Linked DNA regions of Homo sapiens. The protein of the gene in region 2 purifies or fractionates together with the protein of the main gene of each other region. This does not show direct contact. Each region holds a gene or a part of one and is shown on either strand. Other genes may lie near its edges. The genes, in order: HTR1E, BRAT1, CD40 and WDR73.

The links.
Region 1: the proteins of BRAT1 (region 2) and HTR1E purify together in Homo sapiens (co-immunoprecipitation; one large-scale study listed by IntAct). This does not show direct contact.
Region 3: the proteins of BRAT1 (region 2) and CD40 purify together in Homo sapiens (co-immunoprecipitation; one large-scale study listed by IntAct). This does not show direct contact.
Region 4: the proteins of BRAT1 (region 2) and WDR73 purify together in Homo sapiens (affinity purification with mass spectrometry, with the first as the bait; one large-scale study listed by BioGRID). This does not show direct contact.

What each region holds. Positions count from the first base shown.
Region 1 is NC_000006.12:86,943,547-86,947,823, reverse strand, and holds part of HTR1E (5-hydroxytryptamine receptor 1E), read right to left. Parts: intron 1-4,277. UniProt on the Homo sapiens protein: G-protein coupled receptor for 5-hydroxytryptamine (serotonin). Also functions as a receptor for various alkaloids and psychoactive substances.
Region 2 is NC_000007.14:2,542,025-2,546,301, forward strand, and holds part of BRAT1 (integrator complex assembly factor BRAT1), read right to left. Parts: intron 3,033-4,277; coding exon 2,885-3,032; intron 1,939-2,884; coding exon 1,566-1,938; intron 1,300-1,565; coding exon 1,180-1,299; intron 188-1,179; coding exon 96-187; intron 1-95. UniProt on the Homo sapiens protein: Component of a multiprotein complex required for the assembly of the RNA endonuclease module of the integrator complex.
Region 3 is NC_000020.11:46,120,883-46,125,159, reverse strand, and holds part of CD40 (tumor necrosis factor receptor superfamily member 5 isoform 1 precursor), read right to left. Parts: intron 3,341-4,277; coding exon 3,262-3,340; intron 2,928-3,261; coding exon 2,802-2,927; intron 2,551-2,801; coding exon 2,404-2,550; intron 2,035-2,403; coding exon 1,941-2,034; intron 1-1,940.
Region 4 is NC_000015.10:84,644,054-84,648,330, forward strand, and holds part of WDR73 (integrator complex assembly factor WDR73), read right to left. Parts: intron 3,902-4,277; coding exon 3,837-3,901; intron 2,296-3,836; coding exon 2,131-2,295; intron 2,033-2,130; exon of another isoform or gene 1,920-2,032; intron 1,784-1,919; coding exon 1,418-1,783; intron 1-1,417. UniProt on the Homo sapiens protein: Component of a multiprotein complex required for the assembly of the RNA endonuclease module of the integrator complex. Associates with INTS9 and INTS11 in the cytoplasm, stabilizing the INTS9-INTS11 heterodimer and blocking the active site of INTS11.

The DNA.
Region 1 (4,277 bases), on a different chromosome or scaffold from region 2:
TCTGAATTCAATTATTAACTATATTTCTTACAGTTCATCCAAATTCCACTTTGGATATAGTCAATATTTACTAATTTATGTTGTTGAATCAATAAATGGAAATATCATTTAAAAAATAATGTTAATTAGAGAAAGCAGAACACAAGAAAAGTATATAACATACTCCTGATTTCATTGAAAAAGAAACCACTCTTTTCTCCCTATAGAGAGGGAAAGCACTAAGGCAGAAATTCATCAAAGTATCAATAGTGGCTGCCTCTTGGTGGTGGCAATAAGAGTAACTTTAACTACATTTTTTATACTTTTCTGCATTTCCAAATTTTCTACAATGAACATGTGATATACTTATAAGCAGGAAAAAAAATCCCTTAAAGTGGTTGAGTGGAGGAGTTTGAACTTTACTTGTTTTGTATCTGCCAAATTTATGCCAATTTACAGTGAGAGAAGAAATGTAGATAACACAAGAATCAAACAAAAAGAACTCTTTGAGATAACCAAGAGTTGGTTTTATTTGCCTACTTCAAAAGGTTGTTTTGTGAGTTCTTAAGTAACTATAAATATTTATACAGGTGTTGCTACAATGCCAGAAAATTAAAATAATGAGGATAATTATTTATATTACAAAATATTAATGATATCACAAGATCACATAAGCATTGTACAATTCCACTAGATACATGGAAACCTTCTCTGTGCATTTTTTTTTTGAGACAGAGTTTCGCTCTTGTTGCCCAGGCTGGAGTGCAATGGCGCGATCTCGGCTCACCACAACCTCCGCCTCCTGGGTTCAAGCGATTCTCCTGCCTCAGCTTCCTGAGTAGCTGGGATTACAGCCATGTGCCACCACGCATGGCTAATTTTGTATTTTTAGTAGAGACAGGGTTTCTTCATGTTGGTCAGGCTGGTCTCAAACTCCTGACCTCAGGTGATCCGCCTGTCTTGGCTTCCCAAAGTACTGGGATTACAGGTGTGAGCCACCGTGCCCGGCCTCTGTGCATTTTAATTATGGTTCAGTTTCTAAAAATTCTGTTTGCAAGCCACTTTTCAGGGCAGCATATCTAATGTGTTCAGCAAGATAAGATTAAACCATATAAAGTTATTGTAAAACTTGGGGTAGCTGGATTTGATACATACACTTAAAACACAACTGACAAAAATCATATCTAGTTACTTCAGTTGTCCTCAAAGGACCATGGAGTAGAAGCTGAAACATATAGTCATCTTCATCATTGTCATTATGACCATCATCTCATTTTTTTAGATTTCAGCATAATTTTATATATAGCCATGCATCATACATTCTGAGAAATGCATTGTTAGGCCATTTCATCATTGTGTGAACATCAAGATGTGTACTTCCACAAACCTAGATGGTGTAGCCTACTGCACACCTAGGCTATGTGGCATAGCCTATTGCTTCTAGGCTACAAAGCCAGACAGCATGTTACTGTATTGAATACTGTAGGCAAATGTAACACAATAGTATTTGTGTATCTAAACGTAGAAAGGGTACAGTGAAAATATGGTATAAAGATAAAAAATGGGATACTTGTGTAGGGAACTTATCATGAATGGAGTTTGCAGGATTAGAAGCTGCTCTGGGTGAGTCAGTGAGTCAGTGTTGAGCGAATATGAAGGCCTAGTACATTACTGTACACTACTGTAGACTTTAAAAACACTGTACACTTAAGCTATACCTAATTTGTAAAAACCATTTTTTCTCTCTCCAATAATAAGTTAACCTTATCTTACTATAACTTTTTTACTTTATAAACTTTTTAATTAGGCCGGGTGTGGTGGCTCATGCCTGTAATACCAGCACTTTGGGAGGCCGAGGCAGGTAAACCACCTGAGGTCAGGAGATTGAGACCAGCCTGGCCAACATAGTGAATCCCCATCTCTACTAAAAATACAAAATTTAGCTGGGCATGGTGGCACATGCCTGTAATCCCAGTTACTTGGGAGGCTGAGGCAGGAGAATTGCTTGAAACTGGGGAGGCGGACGTTGCAGTGAACTGGGATCACCACGCCACTGCACTCCAGTCTGGGAGGCAAGAAAGAAACGTCATCTCAAAAAAACAAAAACAAAAACAAAAACAAAACAAAAAACCCCCAAACTTTTAAATTAAAAAAACCTTTTTGACTCTTTTTGTAATAGCACTTAGCTTAAAACACATTGTATAGCTATACAAAAATATTCTCATTATTTATAACATTATTTTATAAACTTTTTTCTATTTTTAAAACTTTAAATTTTTTCTTTCCTTTTCACACTTTTTTGTTAAAAACTAAGATACTCACGCCTGTAATCCCAGCACTTTGGGAGGCTGAGGCGGGCGAATCATTTGAGGTCGGGGGTTCAAGACCAGCATGGCCAATATGGTGAAATCCCGTCTCTACTAAAAATTCAAAAAATTAGCTGGGCATGGTGGTGAGTGCCTGTAATCCCAGCTACTAGGAAGCTGAGGTGGGAGAATTGCTTGAACCTGGGAGGCGGAGGTTGCAATGAGGTGAGATTGTGCTGCTGCACTCCAGCCTGGGCGACTGAGACTCTGTCTCAAACAAACAAACAAACAAACAAACAAAACTAAGATACAGACACATTAGCCTTAGCCTACACAGGCTCAGGATTATCAGTATCACTGTATCTATTTACACATCCTGTCCGTTGGAAGGTCCTTCGGGGCAATAACATGCATGGAGCTGTCATCTCCTGTAATAACAATGCTGTTTTCTGGGATACCTTCTGAAGGACCTGCCTGAGGCTGTTTTACAGTTAAACTTCTTTTCACTTTTTTTTTTTAATTAAGTAGGAACACACCCCAAAATAATGATAAAAAGTATAGTACAGTAAATGTATAAACCAGTAACAGTTGTTTATTATCAAGTATTATATACTATACATAATTGTATGTGCTATACTTTTATACAACTGGCAGCACAGGTTTGCTTACACCAGCCTCATCACAAGCACATGAGCGATACATTGTGCTACAACAACATTGCAATAGCGATGATGTCACTAGGCTGTAGGAATTTTTCAGCTCCATTATAATTTGTGGGACCACTGTCATATATGTGGTTTGTGGGTGACCAAAATATTGTCAATGTGCTGCATGGCTGTCTATTATCTATTTTATCCTGGTAAGTCTGTTATTATCATCACTTTCATGAGAGAACTAAGGTATGAAACAAATAAATGGCTTTTCCAAGGTCACACACACAGCAAGGTGTAAAATTCACATCTCTTAATCATTGATTTGCTGTTCTTATATCACTATCTATAAAGTGGAACTGGATTCTCAGCATTAATAAAACTAATAAAATCTTGATATTGTATAGAGCTTTATATTTTACAAATTCTTTGACAGATTATCTAATTTCAGTCTGAGAACATTACTATGAGATAAAACCACGAGGTGATACTGAATTGAGTCTTTATCAAACAGCTTCTGATGTCTTATATTGTGGCAGGCAGTATCTCAGGTGGCTCTCAATGATTTGGTTCCTGTAGGTATTCCTCCCACTGTGTAATCCCTTCCCCTTGAATTAGGCTGAAACTAGTGACTTGTCTCTAATGAGGAACACAGCAGAAGCCATGGGATATCACTTCTGATATCAGGTTACAAAAAGACCTTGGCTTCTATTTTGCTATCTTTCAATCTTAGCCCTTGCTCCAAGGACAGCAAGCTGCAACATCTGCATGAAGCACTCTGTTTTGTTAGTAGCCCTATAGAGAGGTCCATGTGGTAGCAAAAGAACGTCTCCAGCCAGCAGCCAGCTGGGACCTGAGGCTTGTCAACAGCCACGTGAGCGAGCTTGGAAGCGTTACCTTTCCCCAGTTGAGCCTTGAGATGTCTGCAGTCTCGGCTGAAACTTTGCAGCCTGTGAGTGACAGACCTGAGCCAGAGGACCTAGCTAAGCCATACCCAGATTCCCAACCCATGGAACTATGATCATAGAGATAATAAAAATCTGTTGCTTTAAGCCATTAGGTTTTGGGGTAATTTATTATTTAGCAATAATGAATACACACATTTAATCCTCATAAATAGCCCTATGACATAGTACTGTTATGTGAGCCCCAACAAATGAGGAAACTGAGGTTTAGAGATGTGAAAGCAGTTAATGAATGGCAGAGCTGGGATATGAACCTGGCTTTCTGGACTCGAGAGCTTGGGCTTGAGCCCCATGCTGTGTTACCCCCTAGTAGTATAACACAAGGTGCAGTTTGACATCACAGGTGACAATGAATCACAATAGCATATTCTGTTTTG
Region 2 (4,277 bases):
GGCGGGGGTGGCGAGCCAGCTACTCTCATCCATCTCCCTTCCCCCAGCCGCAGGGACCCAGGTTCTGCCCTCCCAGCCCTTTCTAAGCAGCACACCTGGGGGTCCGGGGGCCTGAACCGTGGCCTTCAGGACACAGGCCAGGGGCTGGAGAAGGACCTGGAAGGCCTGGGTCCTCAGTGCCTGTGGACTGGAGACAAACGCGAGGTGAGTGCCGCGACCCTGGCTGCGAGACAAGTTGGCTGTGCTCCTAATGTCCCCAGCAAGCCTGGGGCAAATCAGCCAGGGGGTTGGGACACCCCCCGAGAAACATTCTCTGCAGGCCACTGGCCAGGGGATGCCATGGGACAGAGTGGCGGGGAGGACAGGCCTGACCAAGGAGATGGGCCTGACACTCCTGATGTCCTTAGGAGCAGATACTGAGGGGCCTCCAGGAGGGCCTGGCCATGCACCCAGAGAGAGGGGCAGTGCCCGCTCAGGGGGACAGGGATGGGGTGCCCCCAGGTGTGTACAGCGTCCACTCTGTGGGAGGGACCTGCCCTCACGTCTGGGCCTAGGTGGAGGCAGTGTCCCCACAATGCATTCCTGCAGGGCCGGGCCTGTTCCTCCATCCTCCCCCGGTCTACTCTCTCCTAAACATTCGGAGACCCCGGAGCTCAGAGCTGGACCCTCATGGTACCCCTGGGCCCTGTGGGCAGCAGGTCCTGAGGTCACTTCCACCCCTATTGTGAGCCCACCTGGAACACTGGCAGGCCATCCACGGCCTTCCCACCTGTCCTGACCCCAGGCTCTGCCGTTGCACCGCCCCCAGGCCCCCCACCCGCATGGTGTGTGTGCTGGGGAGCTCCGAAACCCCCAACCAAAGCTGCGGTGGGGGACAGGTGGGAGGGCAGCGGAGCGCAGGGCGTCGGCAGGACCACCCTGCTCTGAGCAGAGCAGCTCCCGCATCCTTCTCACCTCTGGGGATCTCGCAGAGCTTTGGTCTGAAACAATTATTCTGTTGCTAAAGAACCTTCAGAAGCTGCCGCGCGCAACCCACGCACCACCCAGTCACACCCCGCACGGCCGCCTGACTGTCCCTGGTGTCCGGAACTCCCCTGCCATGAGGGCTGCGCTCTCAACCTCCCTGCCTGCCCCAGCTCCCAGCACCCGCCTCGGAATGAAATGCACCCCAGACCATACCAGTGCTCGAGCTTCAGGATCCCCAAAGCCAGGGGTCCCATGTGGGTGGGACCCAGGCAGCTCAGAGCCCGCGCCACTGTCTCCCACAGGCTGCCGTCGGAAGAACTGAACACGGGAGAACTGCAGGGAGACCCCAGAGAGAAAAATTACTCCCCCACCCTCAAAACCCCATTCGAGGCCTGGCTGAGACTGCCATGGCTCCGGCACTGGAGGCGCCCAGCCCAAGACAGGCCTTTCCCCATGAGGGTTCCAGGGTCACCCCGGTGCCGCTTCACTGCAGGCCATGTCCTCAGAGAGTCTCCGGCTGCCAGTGGGACATCCCTGGGCGTTATCCGAGGAAAACAGTTGCCCACCCAGGCCCCCCAGCTGCGTCCCGGGGCCCTGACCGAGCCACACAGAGAAGCAGGTCCACGAACGAGTGTGCGGCGGGGATGGGGTCTCTCTCCAGCAGACAGGCCACGCGGGGACTCAGCCGCACCCACAGGGCTTCCGTCCAGGGGCTCTGGCAGCGCCCGAAGGTCGTGGTCAGGACGTTCAGGGCCTGAGTGACCTTGGGGGTGGCCGCGGAGCACAAGGACTCTTCAACGTGATCCATGATCTTCTGGGCACACGCGGGCCAGTCACCCCCCGGCAGGCAGGGCTGCCCCTCGGCTCCACCTCGCATGGACAAAGCCAGGACGTGCACCAGGAGCTGACTGGCCGCCGAGGCCACAAACAGGCTGGAGTCTCCCTGCAGGGAGAAGATGGTGTCGACCGCACCTGGGTAGGGGATGGGGGAAGAGAGGGAAAAGGGGGTGAGCCAGAATAGAGCTGGGGGAGGCAGAGGGCCTCAGGGAAGATACAAATAGCAGAGGGCCCCCCAAGATGCCCCCAAATGCCTCTCCACTCAAAAGCAAAAAAGAACAGGAACTGAAGCTCCCTGGAGACAAGCACCTCCTCCCCCCGAGCGTTAAACACACACAGCTTGTGATGCTTCCCAATTCGTTCCTTCTTGTTGTTTTTTTTTTTTTTTTTTTTGAGACAGAGTCTTGTTCTGTTGCCCAGGGTGGAGTACAATGGTGCGATCTCAGTTCACTGCAACTTCCACCTCCCAGGTTCAAGCCATTCTGCCACCTCAGCCTCCCAAGTAGCTGGGATTACAGGCACCCGCCATCATGCCCGGCTAATTTTTGTATTCTCGTAGAGACAGGGTTTCACCATGTTGGCCAGGCTGGTCTTGAACTCCTGACCTCAGGTGATCCACCCGCCTCGGCCTCCCAAAGTGCTGAGATTACAGGCGTGAGCCACCGTGCCCAGCCTCGTTTCTTGTTTTTTTGAGACGGGGTCTTGCTCTGTTGCCTAAGTTGGAGTGCAGTGGCTCAACCACTGCTCACTGTAGCCTCGAACCCCTGGGCTCAAGTGATCCTCTTGCTTCAGCCTCCCGAGTAGCTGGGACTATAGCCACGCATCACCACGCCTGGCTCCCAAATAGTTTCAAAGACTGAGTCCTCACGGCTGATCTGTAAGTGGCTGAGAAAGCCGTCCTGGCTCCTAGGGCCTGACCTGCCAACCAGAGAACACTGGACAGCCGTACTGTCACAGTGCAGTCTTTGCAACAACCCTGAGACATCGCACAGACCAGACACTCAGATTCAGCAAGGTGCAGTGAATTCCCTGGGATCACACAGGCAGGATGAGGAATGGGGTGGGGTGTGGGCGCACTCACCATGGTCGGCCAGGAAGCGCAGGGCGCTGGGGTGCTGTGCCAGGGAGCGCAGGCCCTGGATCCAGCCGCTGCGCACGGTGGGGACGGCCCAGGTTGCTCGGCCGAGGGGTCCTGGCTCCCCAAAGAGCCCTGGTAGTAACTCCCCCTGCTGGGAAGCAAAAAAAGAAGTGAGGGTGGCCAGGCGCAGTGGCTGAAGCCTGTAATCCCAGCACTTTGGGAGGCCGAGGAGGGCAGATCACGAGGTCAGGAGTTCGAGACCAGCCTGACCAACATGGTGAAACCCCATCTCTACTAGAAATACAAAAATTTGCTGGGTGTGGTGGCATGCACCTGTAATCCCAGCTACTAAGAAGGCTGAGGCAGGAGAATTGCTTGAACCCGGGAGGCGAAGGTTGCAGTGAGCCAAGATCGCACCACTGCACACCAGCCTGGGTGACACAGCGAGACTCCATCTCAAAAAAAAAAAAAAAAAAAAAAAAAAAGAGGTGAGGGGACCTGGTAGGTTTCCAGGGATGTGGAGCAAAGCAGAGATGGGTTTTCAGTTTTCCAGGGCTGGTGGAGATACTTCTGGAGGACACTTTCTTCTTCTTTTTTTTTTTTTTGAGACAGTCCCACTCTGTTGCCTAGGCTGGAGTGCAGTGGCACATCTCGGCTCACTGCAACCTCTGCCTCCTGGGCTCAAGCTATTTTCCTGTCTCAGCCTCCTGAGTAGCTGGCATTACAGGTGCCCACCACCACACCCAGCTAATTTTTTCATTTTTAGTAGAGACAGGGCTTTACCATGTTGGTTAGCCTGGTCTCGAACTCCTGACCTCAGGTGATCCGCCTGCCTCAGCCTCCCAAAGTGCTGGGATTATAGGCATGAGCCACCGTGCCCAGCCTGGAGGGTACTTTCATACCAGCTGCTGACAGACAAGGGCCCCCGGATTCACTGTACGGCAGCACCCTAGGACACCTTGGAAAGTCTGTCCTGCAGCAAGATGGTGCCTGGGTGGGCTGCTAGGGAGCCTGCAGCTGCTTAACTGGGGGGCATCGTGAACGGCAAGCTAACGGTACTGGATGTGCCTTCGCACAACCTGGCGAGGGCCTGTGAGGCACCAAGAGAAGCCGTCGTGGTAGACGGGCAAGGGCCCTGAAGCTCACACCACGCATCCCGACAGACTCAGCGGTGCCTGTCTGAGGCACTTGAAGCTGGAAGACACAGCTCTGGGAGGCTCTCGAGCTCTCATGCCTTGCTATGTAGAAATTCTTGGCTGGGAGCAGTGGCTCACGACTGTATCCCAACACTTTGGGAGGCCGAGGCAGGATGATCGCTTGAGACCAGGAGTTTGAGACCAGCCTGGGCAACATAGTGAGACCCCATCTCTACCAAAGATAACAAAGTTAGCCAGGT
Region 3 (4,277 bases), on a different chromosome or scaffold from region 2:
GGAGACTGAGGCTCAGTGAGGGTCACACACTTACTGAGCTGTAATCAGATACGTAAGCCAATGCACTGATTCCATTAATACTATACCACTGGTGGCCGGGCACGGTGGCTCACGCCTGTAATCCCAGCACTTTGGGAGGCCAAGGCAGACGGATCACGAGGTCAGGAGATCAAGACCATCCTGGCTAACACGGTGAAACGCCGTCTCTACTAAAAATACAAAAAAATTAGCCGGGTGTGGTGGCGGGCGCCTATAGTCCCAGCTACTCAGGAGGCTGAGGCAGGAGAATGGCGTGAACCTGGGAGGCAGAGCTTGCAGTGAGCCGAGATTGCGCCACTGCACTCCAGCCTGGGCGACAGAGTGAGACTCTGTCTCAAAAAAAAAAAAAAAAAAAAAAAAAAAAAAAAACTATACCAGTGGTGCCTCCAGTTATCAGTCAACATTTATCAGTAAAAATTTAAGCACCTACCATGCGTCAGGTACTGTTCCAGGTATAGGGGATGTATCAATGGAAGAAAAAAAAAAGGCCAAGTTTCTACATTTAAGGAATTTTCAATCTATTAGGGAAAGGCAGACAGTTAACAAATAAAATGTATACTCCTATTTGTGCAAAAGTAAAAGGAGGGAAATTTTGTGTGTGTTTGTGTGTGTGTGTGTGTGTGTTGGTTTGTTTATATGTAGAATCTCTGGAAGGATATGCAAGGAACAATGGCTCCCTCCAGAAAGAACTGGGAGCCTAAGGGGCAGGGATGGGAGAAAGACATCACTTTGGCTCTTTTGTGCCTTCTGTCCCATGTGCCTATCTTGCCCATTTTTAAAAATCAAATGCAAAAAGTTAATGGGGCAGGTGTTTGTTTTTTGAGACAGAATGTCGCTCTGTTGCCCAGGCTGGAGTGCAGTGGCGCTATCTTGGCTCACTGCAAACTCCACCTTCCGGGTTCAAGTGATTCTCCTGCCTCAGCCTCCCGAGGAGCTGGGATTACAGGCGCCCACCACCACACCCAGCTAATTTTTTGGTATTTTTAGTAGAGATGGGTTTTTACCATGTTGTGCTGGCTGGTCTTGAACTCCTGACCTCAAGTGATCCACCCGCCTTGGCATCCAAAGTGCTGAGATTACAGGCAAGAGCCACCGCGCCTGGCCTGGGGCCCATGTTTAAGGTATTCCAGGCAGATGAGTTTGATGGAAGAGAATGAACAGTGTGTTCAGAGGATTGCAAGTAGCATGAAGCTATGCGATGCAGGAAAGAGAGCAGGAAATGCAACAGGAAGGTTGGGTGCCATGCTAAGGAGTCTTAGTTCCAACAGAGAGACAGGAAGCATCTCAAATAGGAGAGTGTCATGATTTGAAAGAAACTGTCGAACGCTCATGTTGGCAAGAGGATGGAGACAGAACCAGCAGGAGGGGAGAGACAGAGGCAGGGAGGCCAGGAGGCAGAAAAGGCATCACCCAGACCACAGTGATGAGGCCCAAACTAAAGTGACAACAGTGGAGACAGTAAGTTCCCAAAACACGTAGACAGCCAGTGGCAGGACCTGGTGTGGGTTTGGAGTTGGAGGTAAGAGAGGGAGGCCCTCAGGGTGAGCACCCAGAGCCCAGAAAGCCCTAGAAAGCCAGGTAAGGTGAAAGCAAGACGAGGAAAACTGAGGAGAAGCAGGAGGGGCAGAAGGAAAGCTAAAATAAGTGTCCCAATACCCCCAAGATAGGAGGCTCTCATGAAGCGAGAGATCAACAGTGTCTATTACCTCAAAGAGACAGCAGGCAAAAAAAATGTGGAAATGTGCCTGTCTGGTTGGCCATGAGGCCACTCTGCAGATGCTTCACAAGTACATGAGTGTGTGTGGACCTCTGGGAGCAGGGACAGGACAGGTGGCTGGAGAGAATGGAGGCAGCTCCATGCCACTCTTAGAGCAGGAAACACAAGGGATGAGTGCTTATACCTTGTCCAAGGGTGACATTTTTCGAAAGCAGATGACACATTGGAGAAGAAGCCGACTGGGCAGGGCTCGCAGATGGTATCAGAAACCCCTGTAGCTGGGAGTGGGTGGGGAGGGGGACATTAACCATCACAGTGGACCACCTGTCCGGCTCACAAGGCAGCCAGTGGCCAGGCAGGACGGGAAGAGCTCCTGCCTTGAGCACTCTTCCCCCGATGTGGTACTGCCCCCGACAGCTGCAGTCCCCAGGAGGACTTCTCCCATTGCCCTTCAAAGGCAGATCCCCATGGCAGAAGGCAGAATGAACAAGGTCCCGTCTGCAGCTCACTCCAGTGGGGATACCGACATAGGTTGGAGCCTCTGCTTCCTCTGCCTCTGGGGCTAAGTGCCCACTGCCCAGCCCCTCACCTTGGGCCCTAAGCTCCTCTGTCCCCCTCCAAAACTGATTCCCAGATGAGCCACTTACCAATCTGCTTGACCCCAAAGCCGGGCGAGCATGAGCGGTGCAGGACACAGCTCTCACAGGCCTCACTCGTACAGTGCCAGCCTTCTTCACAGGTGCAGATGGTGTCTGTTTCTGAGGTGCCCTTCTGCTGGACCCGAAGCCCTAGGTCTGAGAAGAGAAGGGCAGGAAGGATGGGAACCCCCTGCTGGGCCATGCTCTGAGCCTCACTCCCCACATTGCCTGCTCTTTCTTCCTCAGACCCTCTTCCAAGTAGAGATGGCAATCAAATCATTTAATGATCAGTACAGCCCGGACTCCAACCAATCAGAGCAGACCCTGGCTACATAAAATTAGAATGGCTGCATTGTCGGGAATATCAGCCCGGTTCCCAAGCGTCCCTTTCCCAACAGCGCACGCACTGGGGTCGCAGTATTTGTGCTGGTGGCAGTGTGTCTCTCTGTTCCAGGTGTCTAGGAATTCGCTTTCACCGCAAGGAAGGCATTCCGTTTCAGTGAACTCTGTGCAGTCACTCACCAGTTTCTGTCCTGGAAAACATCAGGAAATGAGGGAGGGCTCTGGCCAACTCCATGAGTCAGACACTAACCACACAATGATCAGGCCAGGCTTTAGGGTAGGGGATTCAAAGATGAAAGTCTTGGATCCTTCATAATCAGGCGAGGAAGATGGAGAAGCTGGGATCCCTAGTTCAGGGTAGACAGAGTTTTACCTGGTAGAGAGGGAACCAGAACATTCTGACAGTGAAGCAGGGCTGGGAAATGGGTCGTTTCAGATTTGAGTTTACAGTTAACATATGGGGTCTGCGTCTGCCACCAAAGCAAAGGGGGACTCCATGATGGGGCTAGAGGGTTGGCATCTCACCTGGCTGGCACAAAGAACAGCACTGACTGTTTATTAGGTACTGTTTTTCTCTGCATGCAGTGGGTGGTTCTGGATGGACCTAAAAACAGAATTGTGCAATTTGAAGGGATCTTGAAATCTCCGTTGCAACTTCTTCAGCAGAAAGGTAAAAGTCATCCAGGACAGAGGCTGCAAACTGAAGTGCAAGTCAAAACAGAAAGTGGAACCTGCATGATATTTGGCATGTTTGTTTTCAAGTAAATTGTCAACTGAGCTGATTATAATCGCACCCAGAGAATCATTCTGGTATTTTTACAAAGCAATGGTACTGTAAACTCACAATATTCTCTGAACAGAACAGAATTCCTTGGGGCTTGATGCCTGAGTCATTCCTCTTCCCAAAGATCCCATAGGATATGGGGACTCCAGCAGCTCCCCTGGAGTCCTGAAGCTGGCTGACTTCAGCTGGTCCCAGTGCTGTTTGGGGCTATGTTTAGCACTTGGCCTCTTCCTCCTATTCTTCTGCTTCCCTTCCTGCTCCTTTCCAAAGCCCATCATGTTTTCTTCCTCCAACTCCTCATCATCTGTTCATCCAGCCCTTCCCTCATAAAATGCTAGAATGTAAAGCTGGAAGGGTAAACTCACACTTTCATTTTACAGATAGTTGAGACTGAGCACCAAAGAGGAGGGTCACTTGCCCAGAGTCTCACAGTGACAGAGTCCAAATGAGAACTCAGGTCTCAATGCTCCTCTCTCCATCAACTTGTGTTTCATCTTCACCATTTTACTACATCCAGGTACCACCCATGCTATTAATTACTTATTGTTAATTTCAATACTTTTATTTTATTTTTTGAGACAGAGTCTCGCTCCATCGCCCAGGCTGGAGTGCAGTGGCATCATCTCAGCCCACTGCAACCTCTATCTCCTGGGTTCAAGCAATTCTCCAGCCTCAGCCTCCTGAGTAGCTGGGATTACAGGTGTGTACCACTATGCCCGGCTAATTTATGTATTTTTAGTAGAGACAGGGTTTCACC
Region 4 (4,277 bases), on a different chromosome or scaffold from region 2:
CCGTTGTGCACCTGTTATGCGTGAGGCTCGAAGGCTAATTCTGGACAAGTATTAGCTCTTTTAATCCTCAGAACTGTATGACACAGATACTGTTATTTTACCCAGGAAACTGAGGCTTAAGAGACTTCTTCAAACCTTTTCAAGTTGCCCCAGAGTCCAGTCCCCTACCTCTGGGTCCCTTTCAGCAGATGGCCTTGTCTCCTACTCGATGGGGGAAACAGAAGCCTTTGGAGAGAAATACCTTCACGTCCCTGCACGATCTAGCTGCACACACACTCATTCCATCCTGCCATCTTCCTGGTACTGAAGAGCCAGCCCCTCTACCTGAGCTTGGCTCTTCTGTTCTTTCTGGATCCTGGCATTTCCAATCATCCTTTCTTGCTCTCTTAATGATTTTTTTCAACCCCCACCTGCCTCGACGGATCCTTCCTGTTGGCTTTTAGATACCCACATTAAGTGCCGCAAGCAACTAGCTACCACCAGACCAGAACCAGGGGCCTGCTGACCTAGCTGGCTTGCTACTTTTTTTTTTTTTTTTTTTTTTGAGACAGAGTCTTGCTCTGTCGCCAGTCTGGAGTGCAGTGGCGTCATCTCAGCTCACTGCAACCTCTGACTCCCGGGTTCAAGCGATTCCCCTGCCTCAGCCTCCCAAGTAGGTGGGACTACAGGCGTGCACCAAAACACCCGGCTAATTTTTTTTATTTTCATAGAGACGGGGTTTCACCATGTTGGCCACGATGGTCTCGATCTCCTGACCTTGTGATCCACCCGCCTCGACCTCCCAAAGTGCTGGGATTATAGGTGTGAGCCACCGCACCCGGCCAACTTGCTACATTTCAAAAGGCAAGTAGGCTGAGAAGTACCCTTGAGGTGCTGTCCCTGCTGCTTTTTTTTTTTTTTTCTTTTTTTTTCTTTTTGAGACAGTCTCGCTCTGTTGCCCAGGCTGGAGTGCAGTGGTGCAATCTCAGCTCACTGCAAGCTCCGCCTCCCAGGTTCACGCCATTCTTCTGCCTCAGCCTCCTAAGTAGCTGGGACTACAGGCGCCTGCCACCATGCCTGGCTAATTTTTTGTATTTTTAGTAGGGACGGGGTTTCACCGTGTTAGCCACTGTCCCCTTTTCTTTCTGACCCAGCCCGATGTCTGTCCCAGTGTCTTACTGTCTGCAGGCCCCTCCACCAACCTGAGACCTGAATTCCTGCTAGGCTAGGAAAGGCCTGCTGCCAATGTGTGGAAGTTTAGTAGCCAGGGTAGGAAAAGGCCTGCCACTGAAGAACCTGGAGAGTTCGAATTTCTCTGTGAGCAACTTTAACTCCTGGAGCCAGGTTTATCATGGTGCTGGAGGCTCCTTCCTGAGCACCCAACAGTCTCCTGGAAGAAAGAGATCAGATAACAAGACGAAATCCTGCTCGGCAGTACCTGAGATGGCCAAGCAATTCTTCAGGCCTGGGGCCCAAGTCACTCGCAGCAGCTCTGGGTCAGGGCTAGGTACGGATACTGGGCACTGGACTGAGCTCACAGGATGGCAGAGATCCCGGGGGTCAAGAAGACAAAGACGCCCATCTGAGCCAAGGCTGGCAATGCTGGGCCCAGGGCCCTGGCCCCAGCTCCCAACTTCAGCACACCATCTCTCTCCACCAGACCCAGGGCCAGGGCTGCGATTCTCCAACGGTGCCCACTTCTGCCGGGTGTCAACAAGCCCCAGCCGGCCTGAAGCACAGCAGAAGGCAAAGGTGTCTGCATCTAGGACCTGCAGGCTACTCAGCTCCTCACTGTCACTGACATCTGGAAGACCGACAGCAAAGGAGACAAGCGGCTGGAGGCAGATGGGTCTGGCAATTTGGCAGGGCTGGCTGGTCACAGGTCCCTTCCCACCAGTCCCAGGCAGAATAAATCACATCTCCCTTCCCACTCATCTCACCATTGTCTGCTCAGCTGGTTGGGTGCTGGTCCCTGGGACTGCCTAATCCTGCCCCAGCATAGGAGCCCTTAGAGGCCAGGGCTTACCTCTTATTCACTGTGTATCCCCAACACCTGGCACAGAGAGTTGAACTCAGTTTTTATAGTGGCTGAGTTGGGCTGGGGGGTGATGCCGGCTGGAGCAGCAAGCAAGGGACAAAGTACCACGGTACCTGAGGTGTACGTGGTCTTCCGGGACTCCAGATCAACGACCTGCAGACTTCGGAGCCTCGCCCCATGGAGGACTCCGGGTGCCAATGTGGAGAAGACGGCCACCCTAGGCCAGAGACTCTCCTCTTTCTCATGCACAGCAATGGTGCTGACAGCTTTAATGACATCTAGGGGAAAACGAAGAGGCCAAAATCCAGAACTTTAATGAAGGTTTGAAACATGACAGGCTGCCAGCTGTCTTCCCCTGTACATTTAGAAGATCAAGGAAGAAAAGGAGCTGCCGGCTGGCAAGAGATGATGTTGAGACATAACTACTCTGGCTTATGTTTACATTTTTGAAACCATCAGAAACATTTCAATTTCTTTATTATTTGTCTTATAAACTGTTTTTTGCAAATGGAAGACAATGCCATCTCAAAACCCAAAAAGCAATTCTGGCTTTTTATACTTTTGTGGAGAACAGGTAGAAGACAAGAAAAGGAATGAACATGCTGCTGATGTCACTTACCCCTTCAGCGACAAGAAACAGGTACAGAATTCATGAACTGATATTATTTCTTCAAAAACATGTTCCATGACCTCGAGTGACTTGCTAAAGCCTAGCAAGTACAGGTCACATTACAGATGTCATTGTCTTGTAAGGTGGACAAGAAAGTCCACATCTTTTTTACACTGAATGGAACATCCTTGGCTTTGAGTCAAGTTTTGTTTTGGTTCTTTTGTTTTTTTGAGACAGAGTCTCACTCTGTTGCCCAGGCTGGAGTCCAGTGGCACAATCTCAGCTCACTGCAGCCTCCGCCTCTCAGGTTCAAGAAATTCTTCTGCCTCAGCCTCCTGAGTAGCTGGAATTACAGATGTGCACCCTCATGCCCAGCTAATTTTTTTGTATTTTTAGTAGAGACGGGGTTTCGCCATGTTGCTCGGGCTGGGCTCAAACTCCTGGTCAGGTGACCCACCTACCTTGGCCTCCCAAAGTGCTGGGATTACAGGCATGAGCCACTGCGCCCAGCCAAGTTTTAGTTTTTATTTGGTTGTCTCCACCTGCTTGGTTAGCAGGGAGGTTCTCCTCTCTGTATTCTACATCTGAGGCTTCTCTTAATATATGCTTAATGCTGCCAAAGAGGTGAGCTCACCTGAGCAGCCTAAGCTCTGCTGTTGCCACTGCCCCTGCCTAGGGAGAGTAGTTCTCTGGATGAACTCAATTCCAGGAGCAGGTTACAGGAAGCTCCATTTGGGGCTTGGATGCCATGCTATGGTTGCTAATTCACCTTGTCTGCATTAAAGTAGATTAATTCCCACCTGGCTCTGAGTCTACTACTACTTTTTTTTTTGGAGACGGAGTTTTGCTCTTGTTGCCCAGGCTGGAGTGCAGTGGCATGATCTCGGCTCACTGTAACCTCCGCCTCCCAGGTTCAAGCAATTCTCCTGCCTCAGTCTCCCCAGTAGCAGGGATTACAGGTGCCTACCACCATGCCCGGCTAATTTTTTGTATTTTTAATAGAGACAGGTTTCACCATGTTGTACAAGGTGGTCTTCAACTCCTGAATTCAAGTGATCCACCCAGCTCAGCCTCCCAAAGTGCTACAATTACAGGCATGAGACTGTCCCCAGCCTGAGTCTCCTTCTTAACTGGCTCAGATTAGGGGACAGGGGTGTATGAGTCACACTTTCCTAGAACCCCAAACCCCATCAAGTCAAATTCACTCACCACTGTCCTCTGCAACCTGCCACACCTGCAGATAACAACCTGGAAGGCCACTGGTAACCAGCAATCTATTCAGAAAAGACAAAATCAGTCCAGACCATGGGGAGCTTATCCACACAGGTCCCTTCCCCTTTCCAGCACACTTAGCTTGGGACTCCACTTCCCATATCAGGACATCTTACTGCAAGATCATCAAGGCCAACCACCCTCATTTCACAGATAAGGAGCAGGCTCAATCAACTTTAGGGAGACTGAGCCCAAGCTTCCATGTGTCATGATGGTCACCTACAGAGGACACAAGTATGGGGCCAAACACAACCTGACCCAGAGACTCTTGGCCTCTCCCAACTGAGCAATTATCACCCAAGAGCAATAGAAGAGCATCTTTCTGTCCCGTATCTATTCCCTGGAGCAACTCCGGTAGAACTGTTACTTACATTAGTC